Regions from separate parts of the Homo sapiens genome. Here regions 2 and 3 are each reported to be linked to region 1. The links are microRNA targets in miRTarBase. Many come from high-throughput screens and were not tested one by one. Region 1 holds a microRNA gene; each other region holds the end of a gene's coding sequence.

Region 1 (3,343 bases):
CTCTAACACATGAGATAAATCATGTAATTGGCTGGGCGTGGTGGCCCACGCCTGTAATCCCAGCACTTTGGGAGGCAGGTGGATCACCTGAGGTCAGGAGTCCAAGACCAGTCTGGCCAACATGGTGAAACCTCGTCTCTACTAAAAATACAAAAATTAGCTGGGCGTGGTGGCGGGCGCCTGTAATCCCAGCTGCTCGGGAGGCTGAGGCAGGAGAACTGCTTGAACCCAGGAGATGGAGGTTTCGGTGAGCCAAGATCGTGCTACTGCACTCCAGCCTGTAATCCCAGCACTTTAGGAGGCCGAGACGGGCAGATCACCTGAGGTTAGGAGGAGTTCCAGACCAGCCTGGCTAACATGGTGAAACCCCATTTTTACTAAAAATACAAAAAATTAACCCGGGTGTGGTGGCGGGTGCCTGTAATCCCAGCTACTTGAGAAGCTGAGGCAGGAGAATCGCTTGAACTTAGGAGGCGGAGGTTGCGGTGAGCCAATTGGGCCACTGCACTCCAGGCTGGGTGACAGAGTGAGACTCCGTCTCAAAAAAAAAAAAAAAAAAAAAATTCATGTAATCATCTTCCTTGTTAGTCTCTCACACTAGGATGTCAGCTCCTGAGGGCAAGGGTTTTGTGGTCTTGATCACTGCTGCCCTCCAGAGGCTGGGTTCTCACAGAGGAGGTGTTTGCCAAGCGTTTGTTGAGTGGCTGCCTGACAGCACCTGCCTACCCTCCTCCCTGCAGGAACTCCTGCGTTGCGAGCTGTGCCTGGGCATCATGGGTGGGAAACCGCGACACTCACTGTACTTCATTGGCTACCAAGGTAGGCCCACCCCCTCCTCACTCCTCCCACCCCCCACCGCACCCCCACTCACACCTGCACCCCCTGCAGATGACTTCCTGCTGTACCTGGACCCTCACTACTGCCAGCCCACTGTGGATGTCAGCCAGGCCGACTTCCCCCTGGAGGTGAGTGGGAGCCCCAGTGTGTGGTTGGGGCCATGGCGGGTGGGCAGCCCAGCCTCTGAGCCTTCCTCGTCTGTCTGCCCCAGTCCTTCCACTGCACCTCGCCCCGCAAGATGGCCTTTGCCAAGATGGACCCAAGCTGTACCGTGGGCTTCTATGCTGGAGACAGGAAGGAGTTTGAGACACTCTGCTCAGAGCTGACCAGGGTGAGCAAGAGGAAAGCTGGAGTGGGGTGAGGGGGGCGGTTGGGCAGGGCTGGGGGTGAAAGAGGAACAGAGGCCTCGAGTCCAGCAGAGCTGGGGTGCTGCTTCCAGGCTAGGGGTCCTAACCTGGGAAATGTGAAGAATGTCCACCCCTGAAAAGGTGGGAACGCCAAAGCCCACTGTTAAGGCATCATCCCTTGGAGGCAGCTGTATCCAGGGGCTCAAGTGGTGGGAACCCTCCCTGTCTCTTGGCCCTGCTGTCCGACCAGGACTCTACCCTTATGGGGGCGAGAGATGGCCACCAGCCATTCTGGGCACCCACCCTGTGGTCACTGGAAGGGAAACGCAGGTTTTGCAGCAAAAATCCCAGGACTGTCAGTCTTTGGCTGAGCTGGGTCACATGCTCATGGCTGAGCCAATCACTGTGGCCAGGGGATGGAAGGTGCTGATTGGCTGCTCTCTCCTGGAGAGGTGGTCCTGAGAAGCACCTACTAAATAAACCTGGGCTAAGGAATATGGCTTGGCACTGTTTGTGGCTGACCCTGTCTCCCTCTTCCCGCCAGGTCCTCAGCTCCTCCTCAGCCACAGAGCGGTACCCCATGTTCACCCTGGCCGAGGGCCATGCTCAGGACCACAGCCTGGACGACCTCTGCTCCCAGCTCGCCCAGCCCACACTCCGGCTCCCTCGCACAGGGCGGCTCCTCAGGGCCAAACGCCCCAGCTCTGAGGACTTTGTGTTTTTATAAAGGGAGGGGATGAGGGGAAAGATACAACACTATTTATTTTTTTATTTATGTCATGTCGGGTGTGGGATCTTGAGCTCTGGCAGTGATGATGGTACTTCCTGTTGTCAGCCCCTCAAGCCCAGCTGCAACCAGTCTGGGGCCATTCAGCCAGGGACAGAGCCCACAGAGCCCATACACCTGTCTCCCACCAGCGGGGCCCTCCTGGCAGGGTAGGGAAGGAGGACCCCGGGCACCCCCCTCAGGGCCTGACTCACGTACTGTAGTTTGCACTGGACGCCCGGGCCCTCCCTGTCCCAAAGCCCCCTTGGGGGAACTGTGGCTGCTGGGGGCCAATAAAGCTGTGTAACTTGATCGTGGGTGTGGCTGGGCGCAGCGTTCTGAGGGGATGTGGGGTCTGGGAGGTGTCTCGAGGTGAGAGCTCCAAGTCACGGGAAGTTTAAGTCAGCCTCAGTTTCCACATCCATAAAATGGGACGACTTCCTTACCCACAGCTACACGTGTTTTTTAATTTTTTTTTTTTTTTCAAGAGACAGGGTCTTGCTTTGTTGCCCAGGCTGGAGTGCAGTGGTGCAATCATAGCTCTCTGTAGCCTCAAACTCATGGCCTTAAGTGATCTTCCTTCCCCAGCCTCCTGAGTAGCTGGGACTACAGGCATGTGTCACCACATTTTGTAGAGATGGAGTCTCGCTAAGTTGCCCACGCTGGTCTCCAATTCCTGGGCTCAAGTGATCCTTTCACCTCGGCCTCCCAAAGTGCTGGGATTACAGGCGTGCCTGGCCACAGATGAGAGGATCTCTGCAGCAGATAGTACTTGTGGGTGCGAGACCTGTCCAGGGCTTGATTTGAGGAGAGGAGCCTGAGGCCCCTGCCTGCTCCCTGGTGCTCAGGAGCTGTTCTTGGGCCCCTGTTGTTTCCTCCGCTGCCGGCCCAGCTGGCGGAAGTGCAGCCGTTTGGGGTTGAGGCCAAAGGCCTGCAGTCTCTGGCGGCTGAACTCGCATCCACCAAGCATCACAGTGGGGCCCAGCAGCCGTGCCTTCTTGGCCCTCCTCCGCTTCTGGGGGGCTGGCTTCTTGTGGGGTGATACAGGGGCTTCCTCTTCCTGTGCTGGGGGACTCTCCGGCCCCATCAAGCTGCCATCAAGGGCTGGCAGCTGCCTCTGTGGGCCGGCTTCATCTCTCTGTGGCTTCCCTGTGGCTTCCGCAGGTGTCTCTGCCCTGAGGGAGAAAAGTCAGGGCTCAGCCCAGGCCTGTCAAGATCAGGCCCATTCTTGAGCACGCATGCCCCATTTTACAGACAGGGAAAGGAGGGGCATAGTGAAGCAGCCGCACAGCGACCGAGGGCCTGCCTGGGATTCAGACCTGGGTTTCAGGCCAAAGCCAGCGCTTTTCTACGGAACCCAAAGACTAGATTGTGAGGCTGAGGATTCTGGTAT
Region 2 (3,000 bases), not on the chromosome of region 1:
AATATTAATAATCTGGTTACTAGATACTAGCCAGGAACCTTCTGAACAGTTTTTATGTGATACTGGCCAGTCGTCTAAACTTCCTCCAAAGTTGTATCTTTGAGGCAGAGCTGCCCTTCAGTGAGTCACAAGCACTCTGGCACACCCAAGACCTGGGCCAAGCCACAGTGTCAACTTCCATACACCTGGAAACACCTCTCCTCACCGCCCTGTCCTCCTGTATCTTAGGTGCCTACATGCAGCCAGGAGCACGGGAGAACATTGCCTATCTCACCCACACGGAGCGGAGGAAGGACTTCCAGTACGAGGCCATGCAGGAGAGGCGGGAGGCTGAGAACATGGCTCAGAGGGGCATTGGCGTGGCCGCTAGCTCTGTGCCCATGAACTTTAAGGACCTCATTGAGACCAAGGCTGAGGAGCACAACATTGTCTTCATGCCCGTCATTGGGAAGCGACACGAAGGGAAGCAGCTCTACACCTTTGGCCGCATTGTGATCTACATCGACCGGGGAGTGGTCTTTGTCCAGGGCGAGAAGACGTGGGTGCCCACCTCACTGCAGAGCCTGATCGACATGGCCAAGTGAACTGTGGCAGGTCCAGAACCAGTCAGAGACTTGCCCCTAAGAGGGATGTACTGTAAATAAACAGTATTTTTAGATCACCTTCAAAAGGGTAACTTCTTTACTCAGGAGCTACTCCACATCAGGCCAGGTCATGAGGGAAGGATGTAAAATGGGACAATGCCACGTAGGGCAGGAATCTTTATACCAAGTCCTCATGTGGGGTATCGTCCTCAAAACAGGACAGCCAAGTTGATGTTCTTTCCTGGCAAAGGAGTTCTCTGTAGTTCCTCCATAGCAGCCTTCCCTTTAGTCTCTGGTGGCAGCTTCTACCTCAGCCAACACTGAGTACCTCACAACGAGTTCAGTCAGTAGCAGAAGGATCTTCTCTCTTGTTCCTGATGATTTCAAGGTCCTCACAGTCCTGATAATCTGGTTCTTCCCGAAACTCCCAAATATCTATGGAGAGCTGTTCTAGCTTTTGCACAGGGAACCAGTGGACAGAGGTATCATTAAATATGTCCATGTATTGTGAAGTCTGAGGAAACTCAAGCTCCTCCAGTCCTTTTAAAATCTGAGCAGAAAAATTCAAGTATAAAAACTTCAGATAGTCACAGTAATCCCCACTCTTCTGGGATAAATTTCCACTTTACTTGTCATCCCCACTTTACTTTTTAAAAAAATAACAAATAGGGTATTTTGATTTAAATGCTTTTGCACAATGAATTGGGCGCCCCAAGGACAGTGGATATCATGGACTGTGATACTAAGAATAAAGGAAATAAGGAAAAAACTAAGAGATGCATTAAAGAGTCATAGCTTTCTGGAACACAGACCCATGGAGAGAGCTGACAGTACACTAGCGCCACTTAGCCCATGAGTTTCCTCCTACGCCTGTAAAGAAAGATAGAATTCTTCACAGTTTCACACCCTTTTCCATCCCAGCCCCTTTATTCAGATAGATACCTTTGCAATGTAGGGATAATTTTTCTGCAGAATCCTTGCCAACAACCTAGAAATTAAAAAAAACCAAAAAAACAAAAAAAAAACACCATGATTAGGAGGTATGAGGATAGTTTCATTCAACTTTTAAGACACATAGAAGGGCAAGATGATTGAAGCATAGTAAGAATTCAGGAAAAAACTCAAGATGTGGAGTAAACCAGTTAAATAGTTGAAAATGTGGGCCAGGCGCAGGTAATCCCAGCACTTCAGGAGACTGAGGCGGGCGGATCATTTGAGGTCAGGAGTTCAAGACCAGCATGGCCAACATGGTAAAACCCCATCTCTACTAAAAATAAAAAAATCAGCCGGGCGTCCTGGTGTGCATCTGTAATCCCAGCTACTCATTAGGCTGAGGTAGGAGTATCGCTTGAACCCAGGAGACAGAGGTTGCAGTGAGCTGAGATCATACCACTGCACTCCAGCCGGGGGGACAGAGTGAGACTCCATCTCAAAAAAAAAAAAAAAAAAAAAAGCAAATATTCCAGTAATTGTGCCCATTTCATCAAGAGAAATGACTGAGCAGACTCCTAAGCACGTGAAACAGAATGAGGACGTGGAGCTGTAGGCAGAGGAATCAAATAGCTTTTCCCTGTTTTCAAAACCATTTCTGTGTATCATAATGGAAGGGAGGAATTCGTGGCAAAAAGACTCCTTAACTTGCTTCATAGTTCGAATCAGGATTTGACATCTGTCTTTAAGCCTTCATCCAGTTCCCTGTGGAAAAGCATTTCCCCAGTATGGAATCGTCAAGGAAATGTTTTCTGCATGTGGGTCAATCTGAGGTATGGGCTTCACCTCAGGGCCTGACAGAATCTCAGCATTCTCAGACTTACCTCTCCTCAAGTCCTTTGAAACTGTTCCCAATGATGACCATCTTAGAAAGGGCATCTACTGACCAGTTACTCCATAAAAGATTGTTGTACAAGGCCGTCCCACAATGGAGCATGTAAAAGATGGTAGGCTCCCCGCGAATACTCCGTTTCCCTTCCTGGGGATACGATATTCACAGGTGTAAACATGCCCACAACCTATTCTTTACAGCAAGGTGAGGGAGAGGTAAGGATGGGGATAATCATGAGACAAACTAAAGGATCAAAAGGAAAAAAGCTCATTTTGTGGAACAGTTACACTCGTATATGAAATCTATAGTTACAGGACTAAAGAGTCAGGAAATCATGATGTCCCGAAAGAACTCATGTTTACTTAACAAATGTACACATTGTGTTCTCATGAACACAAAGCCCTGCACTGATGGAGGGGCTTCCTGGGTCTATGACGGCAAGAACAGGAGGGATAGTGATGTTACTTACCCCATGTATTTCCCCTGTGTTCAGTAATCCACACTTCCTATGTCACTTCCTGCAGATCTGCATAACTAAGTCCTCTTCCAATGTCCCTGAGGCACAATCACCCCTCCTGAGAACCACTGCTCTCT
Region 3 (3,343 bases), not on the chromosome of region 1:
AACAGACTGCTCGCTGGTGTTTAGGTCTCCATGCCCGGCCCAGCTCTCTCCTCCTCTGCCCACCCAACAACCTCTGTGGCCCGGATGGATGTTATCAGGAAGGAGGGTGTCCAGAGCGGGGAATTGTGTTATAGGGAAGGTGGAGCATTTGAGAGAAGGGGCATCCGAGGCCACCAGACTCGGAGGTAAGCTTGCCATGGATTCACATGGGGGCCAGTCGGGCAGCCCCATCCATCAGCTGTCCATCAGCTCATAGCTGTGTCTCCGCCACAGGTTCCCATTAAGGATGTCGAGGCGGGGAATGGTGAGGAAGAGTCGGGCATGGGTGCTGGAGAAGAAGGAGCGGCACAGGCGCCAGGGCAGGTGAGTGCCAGCCTGGGAGCTGGCAGGGTGGGTGGGGGGTGGATGACTATTGCCATGAAGAGCTTCCCTTTATTTGAAGGGTCCAGGGCTGCTTTGATCTTTTTTTTCTGAGACTGTCCTATTCCTTTTCTGCACAGGGAAGTCAGACCTGACACCCAGTACACCGGCCGCAAGCGCAAGCCCCGCTTCTAAGTCACCACGCGGTTCTGGAAAGGCACTTGCCTCTGCACTTTTCTATATTGTTCAGCTGACAAAGTAGTATTTTAGAAAAGTTCTAAAGTTATAAAAATGTTTTCTGCAGTAAAAAAAAAGTTCTCTGGGCCGGGCGTGGTGGCTCACACCTGTAATCCCAGCACCTTGGGAGGCTGAGGTGGGAGGATCATTTGAGGCCAGGAGTTTGAGACCTGCCTGGGCAACATAATGAAACTTCCTTTCCAGGGAGGAAAAAAAAAAAAAAAAAAAGCTCTGAGAGCATCTTATTTTGTTTAAAGGCAAGAAATAAAATTTCCTTTTGTGGAGCTCTGGCATCTCCCAGCTCTGTGATTCTCACCAAACTCCAGTTCCTCCTGGTGGGCTACTGCTCGACTCCCCAGGCAGGAATCAGATTTAAAACACTTAGATGAAAGCATTCTTTCCATTTGCAAGGAACACAGAGTCCTTTAATTTAGGGCTTATATATAACTGTATCATAATCACACCAAGCAAAGTTGGGAAGAGGGCCCACATGAAATGTGTTCGTGGTGCCTGCTGGCCAGTCCGTTTTCCCTTCCTGTGAAGGCCTTGCCAGTCCAGCGGCCCCAGCTTGAACTGTGGCACTGAGCTGCACGGTCAGCTGCCTACCAGCCCAGTGCTTGGATGTCTTGGGCTGATCTCTTGTCCCGTCACTAGTGGTTGGAAAGGGAAGGTCCTGCTCTGGGGTAGTGTGGGACTGTCCAGCTGGCTGTGATAGGAGAGGAGGTGTAATGGTTGCTTGAGCCTTTTGGTCCATGTGGGAAGAGGGGCAAGATCCTGGGCATTGCAGTACAGAGCTGGATTAGGTGTTCAGCAGCTTAAGACATTAGGGAATGGGTGCCGGGGCCCGAGGGGCTGGGTGTCTGGGAGTGGGGTGAGGCTTGGGGCCTGAGGATCTAAGCCCTGCAGTGGGGTTTCCTGCAGGTGTCAGATTCCAGGCCTTGAGAGTGGCCTCTGGGCCTGTTCTCAGGGAATAAGGCCTGGATGTTTTCCACTGCACGGCCAGAGACAGGTCTGAGGAAGTTGAAGGCCCAGGGTGGGGTTGAGGCTGAGTTGGGATCCTCGCCTCTGAGCCCTTCCTCTTAGTGCCACATTCATTCATCCTCAGGTTCTAAGACTGTGACACTGCAGATGGCAAGAAGTCTAGAGCAGCCAGGCCAGGCACAACCTGTGGTCCCAGCTCTGTGGGAGGCTGAGGTGGGAGGCCAGCTTGGGCAATAGTGAGAACCCTCCTAAGGTTTTCCCCCAGGAGACCTGGGGAAGAAATCTACAACAGAGGCCTGGTACAGATACAAATGTTTATTCTACATAAAAATTTCACAAAATGGGCAGCTGGTTGTACCAAGACCTTTGGTGAAGGGGTTGGGGGGAATCGCTGTTCAAGAAGGCAACACGGACAGTGGTCACAGTCACTGGGCAGGAGTAAAGCCGAGGGAGGGTGGGGCACACGGACACGGCCCCATCCCCTGCTGCATGCACTCGCATGCATCTCCCTGCCTGTCCACAAGGGAGAGGGTCCTGGGGCGGGGGCACATTTCCCATGAGAAGCCCCAAGGTGGTGAGGAGGAGGAGGTAGCCCTCCCCGGCTGGCTGCCGAATACTGCATCTGGGACACGTGACACCCACGTGGCACATCGATGGGAGGATGGCAAGGGCAGGATGAGACTGCAGGCCTGAAATGACATCTGACTTCCCAGAGCGCAAGACAACAGGAGCCACCATCCCAAACATGCAACGCTGGCTTGAGGGACTGACTGCAGCCTGCTTTGCCTCCCTAGCTGCTGGGGTGGCTGGAAATAGGGCACCAGCCAGCCCCTTCCAGAGGGACACCTGGGGTCAGACCTAGCCCAAGGGGTTGCTCCTGGGGCCGGAGGAATGTGGGAAGGGAAGCTGAGGCCCAGGACCCGATGGACTTTGCCCCTAGGCAGGGGAGGGAGCCTGGAGCCATGGCAGCCTGAGCCTCCCTGGCAGTGATCAGCGACTGAGACTCAGAGCTGGGCTGTCCCTCAGGGCCACCTCTCCCCTAACCTGAAAAGCAGCACCATGTGGCCAGCTGGTCCCCACCCCTCAGGGCTCTGCTTGTGGGGACAGCTGGAGAGGACAGGGCAGGTCAGCTGGAGGCGAGGTTAGGGTCCCCAGGGAAGAGCAGAACCTGGGCCCACCGAGTTACTGAAGGCAAGGAAGGGTGGCCTGTGTCACCCTGGCGGCCCTGCCTGGGTCTGCTCCTCGCTGTGCACACTGCATCACGCCCCGCTGGCTGCCTCCCTCTGCCTCTTCCCGTACAGACGCACACTCACAGAGATCATGCACACGACACGGGGCGGGGACGGAGGGCCCATGGCAGAGAAGGGAGCATGGGGGCCGGGAGGGAGGGTGCTCTGAGCCAGAGGCGGGGGTTGGGAGGGCAGCCCAGCCAGGTGGCAGCAGCCAGGGCCTCCTTGGAGTGGCCCACCTGGAGTGGAGTGGCAGTTTGGGTGGCTTCTAGGCGAAGATGCCCCCAACAGTGGAGGCGATGACGATGCCCAGGATCACACAGCAGATGATGATCATGATTTTCTTCTGCATGGGAAGCGGGCAGGAGAGGCCTCAGACAGTGTTGGCGGCAGGTGGGGTGGGACTATGGCAAAGGCTGAGGACTGGACAGTCGGGGGGGATCCAAGCAGGGGAAGGTGACGGCCTGGGAGGGGGCTGTCATGGGGAGCTCCTGAGAGAAGGGAGAGAGGTGGGATGGGGAGGGATGTGGGATGGT

Evidence for each region. The annotated mature microRNA hsa-miR-1238-3p reads CUUCCUCGUCUGUCUGCCCC and lies in region 1 at 1,027-1,046, shown strand. An mRNA with a match to its seed (bases 2 to 7 or 8) in the 3' UTR can be bound and repressed. Matches are read on the target gene's strand: a 7mer-m8 pairs with bases 2 to 8, a 7mer-A1 pairs with bases 2 to 7 and ends in A, and an 8mer does both.
Region 2: the mRNA of TFIP11 is a reported target of hsa-miR-1238-3p. Seed matches in the 3' UTR shown: 7mer-A1 at 1,101-1,107.
Region 3: the mRNA of BUD23 is a reported target of hsa-miR-1238-3p. Seed matches in the 3' UTR shown: 7mer-A1 at 803-809.

Annotation. Positions count from the first base shown.
Region 1 is chr19:10,551,157-10,554,499 of GRCh38, forward strand. MIR1238 (microRNA 1238) reads left to right here and starts at 966; the gene lies at 966-1,048. It overlaps ATG4D (autophagy related 4D cysteine peptidase), which reads left to right. Exons shown (of 10, transcript NM_032885.6): 7 at 741-819; 8 at 889-965; 9 at 1,049-1,168; 10 at 1,729-2,262. The coding sequence ends at 1,911. KRI1 (KRI1 homolog) reads right to left here. Exons shown (of 19, transcript NM_023008.5): 19 at 1,929-3,125. The coding sequence ends at 2,795. RefSeq lists enhancers at 2,924-3,093, 3,114-3,163, 3,194-3,273.
Region 2 is chr22:26,489,597-26,492,596 of GRCh38, reverse strand. TFIP11 (tuftelin interacting protein 11) reads left to right here. Exons shown (of 15, transcript NM_012143.4): 15 at 229-1,357. The coding sequence ends at 584. It overlaps SRRD (SRR1 domain containing), which reads right to left. Exons shown (of 7, transcript NM_001013694.3): 5 at 2,399-2,553; 6 at 1,527-1,572; 7 at 1-1,134. The coding sequence ends at 925. Among named protein-coding and RNA genes, the nearest start is that of SRRD, 7.2 kb to the right of the region's middle.
Region 3 is chr7:73,697,332-73,700,674 of GRCh38, forward strand. It overlaps BUD23 (BUD23 rRNA methyltransferase and ribosome maturation factor), which reads left to right. Exons shown (of 12, transcript NM_017528.5): 11 at 274-363; 12 at 501-881. The coding sequence ends at 555. STX1A (syntaxin 1A) reads right to left here. Exons shown (of 10, transcript NM_004603.4): 10 at 1,879-3,153. The coding sequence ends at 3,076. Among named protein-coding and RNA genes, the nearest start is that of MIR4284, 12 kb to the right of the region's middle. RefSeq lists an enhancer at 2,044-2,545.